Homo sapiens: one gene and its partner. The protein of the gene in region 1 interacts with the protein of each later gene in a pairwise test. Each region holds a gene or a part of one and is shown in the gene's direction. Other genes may lie near its edges.

What was found.
Region 2: the proteins of LRPAP1 (region 1) and RALGDS interact in a two-hybrid assay, tested with the Homo sapiens proteins (one study listed by BioGRID).

Annotation. Positions count from the first base shown.
Region 1 is NC_000004.12:3,522,391-3,526,192, reverse strand, and holds part of LRPAP1 (alpha-2-macroglobulin receptor-associated protein precursor), read left to right. Parts: intron 1-1,141; coding exon 1,142-1,286; intron 1,287-3,802. UniProt on the Homo sapiens protein: Molecular chaperone for LDL receptor-related proteins that may regulate their ligand binding activity along the secretory pathway.
Region 2 is NC_000009.12:133,114,740-133,118,541, reverse strand, and holds part of RALGDS (ral guanine nucleotide dissociation stimulator), read left to right. Parts: intron 1-3,802. UniProt on the Homo sapiens protein: Functions as a guanine nucleotide exchange factor (GEF) activating either RalA or RalB GTPases and plays an important role in intracellular transport. Interacts and acts as an effector molecule for R-Ras, H-Ras, K-Ras, and Rap.

The DNA of each region.
Region 1 (3,802 bases):
TGCACTGCACAGTGCCGAGCACTTCCTTTGCTGCAGGACTCCACAGAGGCTTTAATGCGCTGGCGTCACTACAGGCATGCGGTGCAGCCTCCCCAGTTAGCCAGGGACAGCACCCTGTCTCCGTGAACCCTGGTCCCACCTCATGACACGTTCTGGTTCACACAGCTGGGCCACTCTGCTCTGCACGGAAGAGCCTTCGCTTCCCTGAAGGGCTAGCCTGCCCCAGCGCACGCCTCTTAGCGGCCGGGCCAGCCCCGAGGCCAGAGTTGATGAGAGCTGGCCGGTGGGTTTCATTCTGCTGCTTGCCTCGGCCGCCTGGCATTCTGGCCCAGTCTTTCTGACGTGGGGACACTCTTGGCCTAAATCCTGTCTTTGCAACCAAAAAGCAGTGTGCCCAGCGGTCACCTCACTTGCTTCCTTCTCTCACCCAGGGTCCCAGAGCTGGGAGGGCAGGGGTGGGATGAATGAAGCGTGGCCTGCCCTGCGGAGAGGGATGAGGGTGGGGCGGGGAAGTTCCTCAGCCCCAGTGCGGCAGCTCGTTCCGGGGCGCTGCCTGTGTGGTCTACGCCAGCAGGTAAGTGAGAGGGTGACAGATTCCTGCTCCAGAAGGATCTGGGGCTGTGTAAGAACCGTCTCAGCAAGACAGTTCGGATCATGGTACACTTGAGAGGTGGTGACTGAGGGTCTTTGGGAAATGAAGATGGGGCAGATCTGAGATTACAGTGATTTTTTTTAAAAAAGAACTTCTAGGTGTCTGTGTCCTTGCAATATGTATCTGCAATGGTAATGCAGTGGGTATCTTCTTCCTGCTCTGTTTATCCGAGTGCCCGATGACTGTCCTCAGGTGCTAGGGTGGGGTGTCCTGTTACAGCCGGACAGGAATGAGCAGCCGCTGCTGGTGGGGAGCCCCCGATGGACTTGGGGTTTCCGGATCGTGTATACAGACAGGCCTAGAGACTGGTGTCCATGTTGAGTTCTTGTCTAAACCTGTGGGGTTTGAATCCTGCTGACAGTGACCCTGACTCCACCTCTTCCTGGTCTCCCAGAACCTCCCGGTGGCCAGCCTCCTCCGAGGTCAGTTTCTCGCTGTGTCCTGGTCCGTCCTGCTCGTGGCTCACAGGCTCCTCCCCTTCGTTCGCAGCTGCATCTTCCTCCCGTGAGGCTGGCCGAGCTCCACGCTGATCTGAAGATACAGGAGAGGGACGAACTCGCCTGGAAGAAACTAAAGCTTGACGGCTTGGACGAAGATGGGGAGAAGGAAGCGAGACTCATACGCAACCTCAATGGTACGTTTGTTTCTTTCCTAATGCAGGTCGAGTATCCCTCTTCCTAAATGCTTGAGAGCGGCAGTGTTTTGGATGTCGGATTTTGTTTTTGGATTTGGGAATATTTGCATTATGCTTAATCTGGATATCCAAAATGAGCCTTTCCCCGAGCATCCTGAGTGCCCAGAAAGCTTAGGATTTGTGTTGGGGGCTCACCCTCATGAGGGAGGTGGCCACTGGCTTCAGTGTTTGGGGGGGCTAACCCTCATGAGGGATGGTGGCTGCTCGCCTCAGTGCTGTGGGCTACGCCTCTGACTCCTTGGCTTTTGGCCAAGGGGCCCATTGGGCACAGCCTGCGGGGGGCTATCCTCCGAGCACAGATGCGCCCTTGGCCGTGGTCTCAGTTTGCTGTCACAGATGCCATTGGCACGCCAGAGGGAGGGCCAAGGCAGGGGCTCTGGGTGCAGGAAGGGGCCGGAGGACAGCAGGAGGCTCTGTCACCCAGAGGAGGAAGCAGGTCTGCCCTAGCATCTTGAAGTTTTGGGGACATACTCCAGATGTCATCAGAATGGACACTTGGTTGTCATGCGCTTAGTGAGTCCTCGTCCCTGTGGGTATTCAAGAAGAGGCAGGACAGTCGCCTGCTTGGTACCAGCATACGGAAGACAGGTGTGTCCTCAGAGCCGGGAGGGTTTTAAATGACAGAGTTGCGACTGTTCCTTTTGGACCCCTCTCCTCCGCCATCCTCCCTCACCACGGGCCCGTCGGCAGGGCACTGGCGGGCAGAGGACGCACACCAGGTGGGCCCGTGGGACTGGGGTTGGGGCTGCTCCGGAGAGTCGAGTGCTCAGCTGCCTGCTGTCAGCTATGTGTAGCAGCCCTAGGAGCTGCTGTGCCTCCACCCAACTGCTGCCCCTGGGCCTGACCCCAGGCACCCCTTCCCCAATCCCCTCCCCCGCTGCTCCCTGTGTGACCTGGGCCCCCGGCACAGTCCCCTGCCCCCCACCTCCGTTTCCTCCTCCTGTCTCACAGGACGGTGGTGTGAACCAAGTGGGATACTCCCCACTGTGGTGGGGGTGGGGGTGGCTGCCATCGCACTTGTTGCTGTCGTGAGGGTGGCCCCAGAGCCCTGGCCATGTCTGGAGTCTGCTGTAGCCCTGCTTTTCACACGCGCTGATGGCCTCAGGCATTGCAGCGCCCGGGTTGTCTCTGGTAAAGAGAGGAGGTGTCTACGGAGTTCCTTCGTTAGGCCTGATGCTCTAACACCTACTCCTCAAAACTCGTTGTCGTCCCATTTGACAGGCTCAGAGAGGGTGATTTGTCTGGAGTTGCAGAGCCGAGTAGTGCAGCAAAGATTTGGAGTCAGGGTTTTCTGACTCCTGAGCAGGTGGTCTGTTCCCAGCCACCCCTCTTCTCCCATTGGCAGGCATCAGCAGACATGTCATGTGGCTGCGCCCGGGTTAAAGACAGAGGGCCGGCTTCATTTTTGCTGGTTTATGCCACCATGTTCAAGAGTCTGGTTGAGACGTAAGCCAAGATACGGCGGCAGGGACTGCCTGGGGAAGAGAGACATGGCTGAAACAATTCTGGATGGTTGCGTCCCCACCAGCGTGTCTAGTGGGCCATTCCCAAGGGCCAAGAAAGAGCCTGTCCTGGAGGTGCCCCCAGGAAGAAGGGACTGGCTATGCAGCAGGGCAGCATTCGGGGCCTGGAGGAGACAGAGTAGCTTGCAGGGGGCACAGAAGTGGGCTAAGAACCAGCTCCCTCCTGCAGGCCAGGCAGTGTCCTTGCAGGGTGTCCAGGTCTGTGGCCCAAGTGGAGCTGTCTTGTTTTCTGCCATTGCCTAGTGACCTGGCAGAAAACTTAGTGGGACTCTAGGAGCCGGCGTCCCAGAAGCAGACCCTGCCCACACTCAGGAAAGAGGCTCGTCCTGGCCAGTTCCCCGCCATCTTCTGGGTGTGGTCCCTGGACCCCCGAGGTCCCCCGTGCCATTATCAAGTGTGATACCATACCTGGGGGACCAGCCATAGCCAGGTGTGCCTGCCCTTGGCACCCTCCATGCTGAGGTCCACCCTGAGACAGACGGGCCACGCTCCACTCTGCCCTGCCCTGCTCTGCTCTGGGGTTCGCTCCTGTCCTCACCCCCACCGCGCCCCCAGGGCCACTTCACTCCCCAGGCAGGGAGTGTGGGGCGGCGTCCGTCCTCCCCAGGCAGGGGGTGTGGGGCGGCGTCTGTCCTCCCCAGGCAGGGGGTGTGGGGCGGCGTCCGTCCTCCCCAGGCAGGGGGTGTGGGGCGGCGTCTGTCCTCCCCAGGCAGGGGGTGTGGGGCGGCGTCCGACTTCCCCAGGCAGGGAGTGTGGGGTGGCGTCTGTCCTCCCCGGGCAGGGCGTGTGGGATGACGTCCGTCCTCCCCAGGCAGGGAGTGTGGGGCCGTGTTCATCCTCCCCAGGAGCTCTAAGGGCTCGGTGCTCCTGAGGCCGCCTCCAGCTTCAGTGCTCTGTGACTCCATTCCATGCAGAAGAACCCAGCACCTCCAG
Region 2 (3,802 bases), on another chromosome or scaffold:
CTTTTGGGGTCAAGACTGTTAAGAGCTCACTTGACAGATAAAGTCACTGAGGCAACAGAGGTGAATTAGATTGCACAGAGTGACCAAGCTGGTCAGTGGCAGGGCCAGGATTCTGACCCAAGGCCTGAGGGCAGTTGCAGGTGGGCTGGAGTGAAGAGGGCTTCTCTGTATTCACAGGGAGCATCTCCCTTCAGCCTCCCGCGTCTTCCCACTGTTTGATCTCTTGATCACACTGTGTGCAGGTCTTCGGTTTAATCCCCAGGGCTCATGAGCACTTTGACACTGAAGACCCCAAGGCAAAGGGCCTGTCCCTGTGTGGGTGTGTGTCCCTGCATGCATGTGTACAGACTGTGGTCTTCCAGGAGAGCTTCCTGGGTGACTCTGAAGGGGCAGCCCCCAGGACCCTCAGGTTCCCCTCTTGCTCTACTCGGGAGGGTCCCCCAGAAGAGGGGGACCAGGCTGGCTGGTCCTGGGTCTTTGTTCCTTCTCCAGGCGGGGGATGCTCAGGCATGCTGGCCTGTTTCCCGGGAGGCTCAGGAATGGCCCTGGGAGATATCAAGCTGCTCGTTGCCAGAGCTGGGGTCTGATTCTTAACCTGGAAATTGGGCATTTCCAGGACCTGTCTGCGTTGCCAATGAGAAAAGAGTGGGGAGATTTATCACTGGCCCTCTGCAGGCAGGCTCTGAACGAGCCAGTGGAGCGGTTTCAGGAAGCTGCACCCAGGCAGTCAAGGACTGGTTCCCAAGAGCTGCTGGTTGGCCGCCCAGATGGCTCCCATGGCGTGGTGCCACCATGCTGTGGCCACCCAGTCCCAGGGTTGGACTTCCAGCCTTGCAGGCCCAGAATCACTGTGTTCCCAGATATACAGCAACAGCAGAGCAGTGTTCCCCATTTGATTGTTAAGGGGCAGACACTGATGCATGCAGCCTCATGCAGGACAAGCTGAGCTTTGAGCAGACCCAATTCTCCCAGTTCCGCACACCTTGGCTGCCCACGGGCGGGGGAGGCAGTGGGATGGCAGCCCAACAGTGGCTTGGCGGGCGGGGCAGGACACCTGCGTTGGAGGGTTTTGGCGTTTTCCTCCATGGGGAAGCTTGCATGCTTTGGCAGCCTCCCCTGTAGTCATTCCTGGAGACTTTTGTCCATCTCAACCGAGGGGCAGGGAGCCTGGGCTCTGGAGAGAAGAGAGCTATGCTGGGATGCCAGCTCAGCCCCCTAGCAGATGTAGACGTGCTCCTGAGCCTCAGTTTCCTCATCTGTAAAATGGACATGATGCCAGCTCTCCTGTTAGGGTTCTGGTGAGGACCCTCGAGTTAGACAAGAGACCTGAGGAGCAGCCTGCACAGCACTTGGCACAGTGGACAGGTAGCAGCTGCCACAATGAGGTTTTCTGATTAGGTGCCAGGGGAGCGGCCTGACCCTTCCAAGTGCCCTGGGCTCCTCGGGTGCGTCACCTGGCACCTTCAGCATGGCACTTCCCTGGCCTGGTGTCTTGTAGGCCTTTTGCCCAGGGCACGTCCACAAACCTCTCGGAGATGCAGGTGCTAGAAAGCTGGCCCTGCCACCCTCCCCTGCGAATTTGCTGTGTGACCTGAGGAAATCCTTCCTGTCTCTGGCCCCTCCTCCACATCTGTGCCACAAGGGGCTGGACTCTGCTCCAAGCCTGAGACCATGGCAGAGGCAGCGCCAGGCCTGGGTGGGTCCCAACAGGCCAGGGTTCAAATCCCTGTTCTGGCTGCCACGTCCTGGCTCCTGACCTGGGCGAGTTCCTCTCAGGCTGTTTCCTTGTCCATCAGGCAGGGCGTTAGGAGGATTAAACGTGATGGGTGTCCAAAGGGCCTTGCACCCAGGAAGTGCCCGCATGTGCTGGGCACTGTAGCTGGTTAAAGTTGGGGCTGCCCTGCACCCCCTTGGGACCAGCCCACCTTCCTCCTCAGCTGCCACCAGCCACGCCCCTCCCGGGCCTGGCCCTGTGTTCACCTGACTGTCAGGGGCTGGGCGTGGACAGGGACCCTGGATGCCCAAGGCTTGCGGCTGACCTGGAGGTCTGGTTCTCCCTCCTCCTGCTTGAGGCACGATTTTCCCATCAGTGAGTAGCAGGGCACAGGCCGGCAGGGAGGGTTTCTGGAGAGATGGGCCGGCCTTTGCGGGGCTCAGCACTGGTTGGTTCCCAGCCTCCACTTTCTGAGGCCAGGGAGCATCCTGGTGGGCAGGCACCGCGTGTCGTCCCGGTCTGAGGCCGCCTCTGTGGGCTGCCATGCCCAGGATCAGGAGTGTGGCCCACCCACACCCCGGGCTGGCCTCCTGTCATCTTGATGCTTTGTCTGTGCGCTGGGGATCAGGGTTGGGTCCACCCACCTGGAGCTGGAGGGCAGGCCCGAGGGCAGGAGGGTCACGGACACGGACACGAGGCCCTTGCGTTCCACCTCCCTTGATGGGGCTCATGGTCCGAGCTCATGACTTGAGAAGTCCTGGGCTCTCACCTCTGGCTCAGCCAGCACACGCCCCACCGGCTCCTGTCCTCGGGCATGGGTCCCCACCTCTGTAGGACGGAGAAGGGCACAGCAGCGTGGGCCCCGCACTGTCGCAGGAGCCTGGGCTCTGTAGAGAGCGAGCAGCCTTCTGTGATGCGTTTTACGTTTGGCTTCTGTATTGGAGCGGAAAGCTGAAGTCAGAAAGCTGCTCCCACCCACTGGGTTTCAGGGTGACTCAGCCTCTCTTTACAGTGTCCCTCGGCTAGGTCCCTGAGCCTTAGGCAGGCCTCAGACAAGTTTCCCTCAGGTTTTTACAGCCCAGCATCCGTCGCCGGCCCCAGGGGGATATGATGTCAGGTGTTGTCCGGTACCACGCCATCAGGTCCCAGTGCCGGTCACCGAGCTGTGTGCATTCTCTCTTGACCCCCACTGTTGCCTGTGACAGGTAGTGCTGCCCTCCCCAGATGACACACCAAGGCCGAGGGCCAGGGGCTGGGCAGAGCCAGCGAGAGACAGGGAGCTGCTGTCTGGTGGGCCAGAACTGTGAGGTGCTGGCAGGGGGGTGGCAAGCACCCCGGGGTGACCTCTGGTGACTGGGACCTGAGCAGCAGCTCAGAGGGGCTTGGGAGGTCCCCCAGGACAATCTCACGCACACGGAGGCTCTGCCGTGAGCCTTTCCACACACAGGCCCGGGGAGGACCAGGGGCGGAGCAGGCCGAGGTGCAGGCTAGAGCCCTCTCCTCACTCCGCTTCAGCCCTCAGCCAGGTCTCCTTGGGAGGGGCCGGTGAGTTCCTGGAGCCATCCATGGGGCAGGGGGCCACTAGCTACGGTTTCCAAGGAAAGGCGTCTGAGTCCGGAGCTGCACCAGAAGGCTGATGCTGGGAGGAGGTGCCGTTGGCCTGAGCGGGGAGATGGCAGGGCTGGGGCAGGCCCCGTAGGGTTCCTCAAGACCCTCACTATTCTACCCAGAGGGAGTCTGGGTTTGGCCTGTGGCTTCCTCCTTCTGTCAGCCAGGGACACGGCATCCTGCTGGCCTGTCACTCTGAGAAGGCTGATCAGGTGACACACTCACCAGACACCACCAGGCCCTGTTTCCCATCCTCATCTTCAGGGCTCTGGGCTGTGTCCCTGGAGACATTGGGGTGTGGGGGCCCCTGCTCACCGGGGACCCCATGCCACCCTCACTGCACTGACCCAAATGTTAGAAGGCCAGACAGTGTGTTTACAGGCACAGCTGCCGACTGGGTCCCAGAGCCCAGGGACATCAGCATGCCTGCTAGGGGTGGGACAGGAGTGTCCCTTGAGGACACAGCCAAGCACGTGGTGT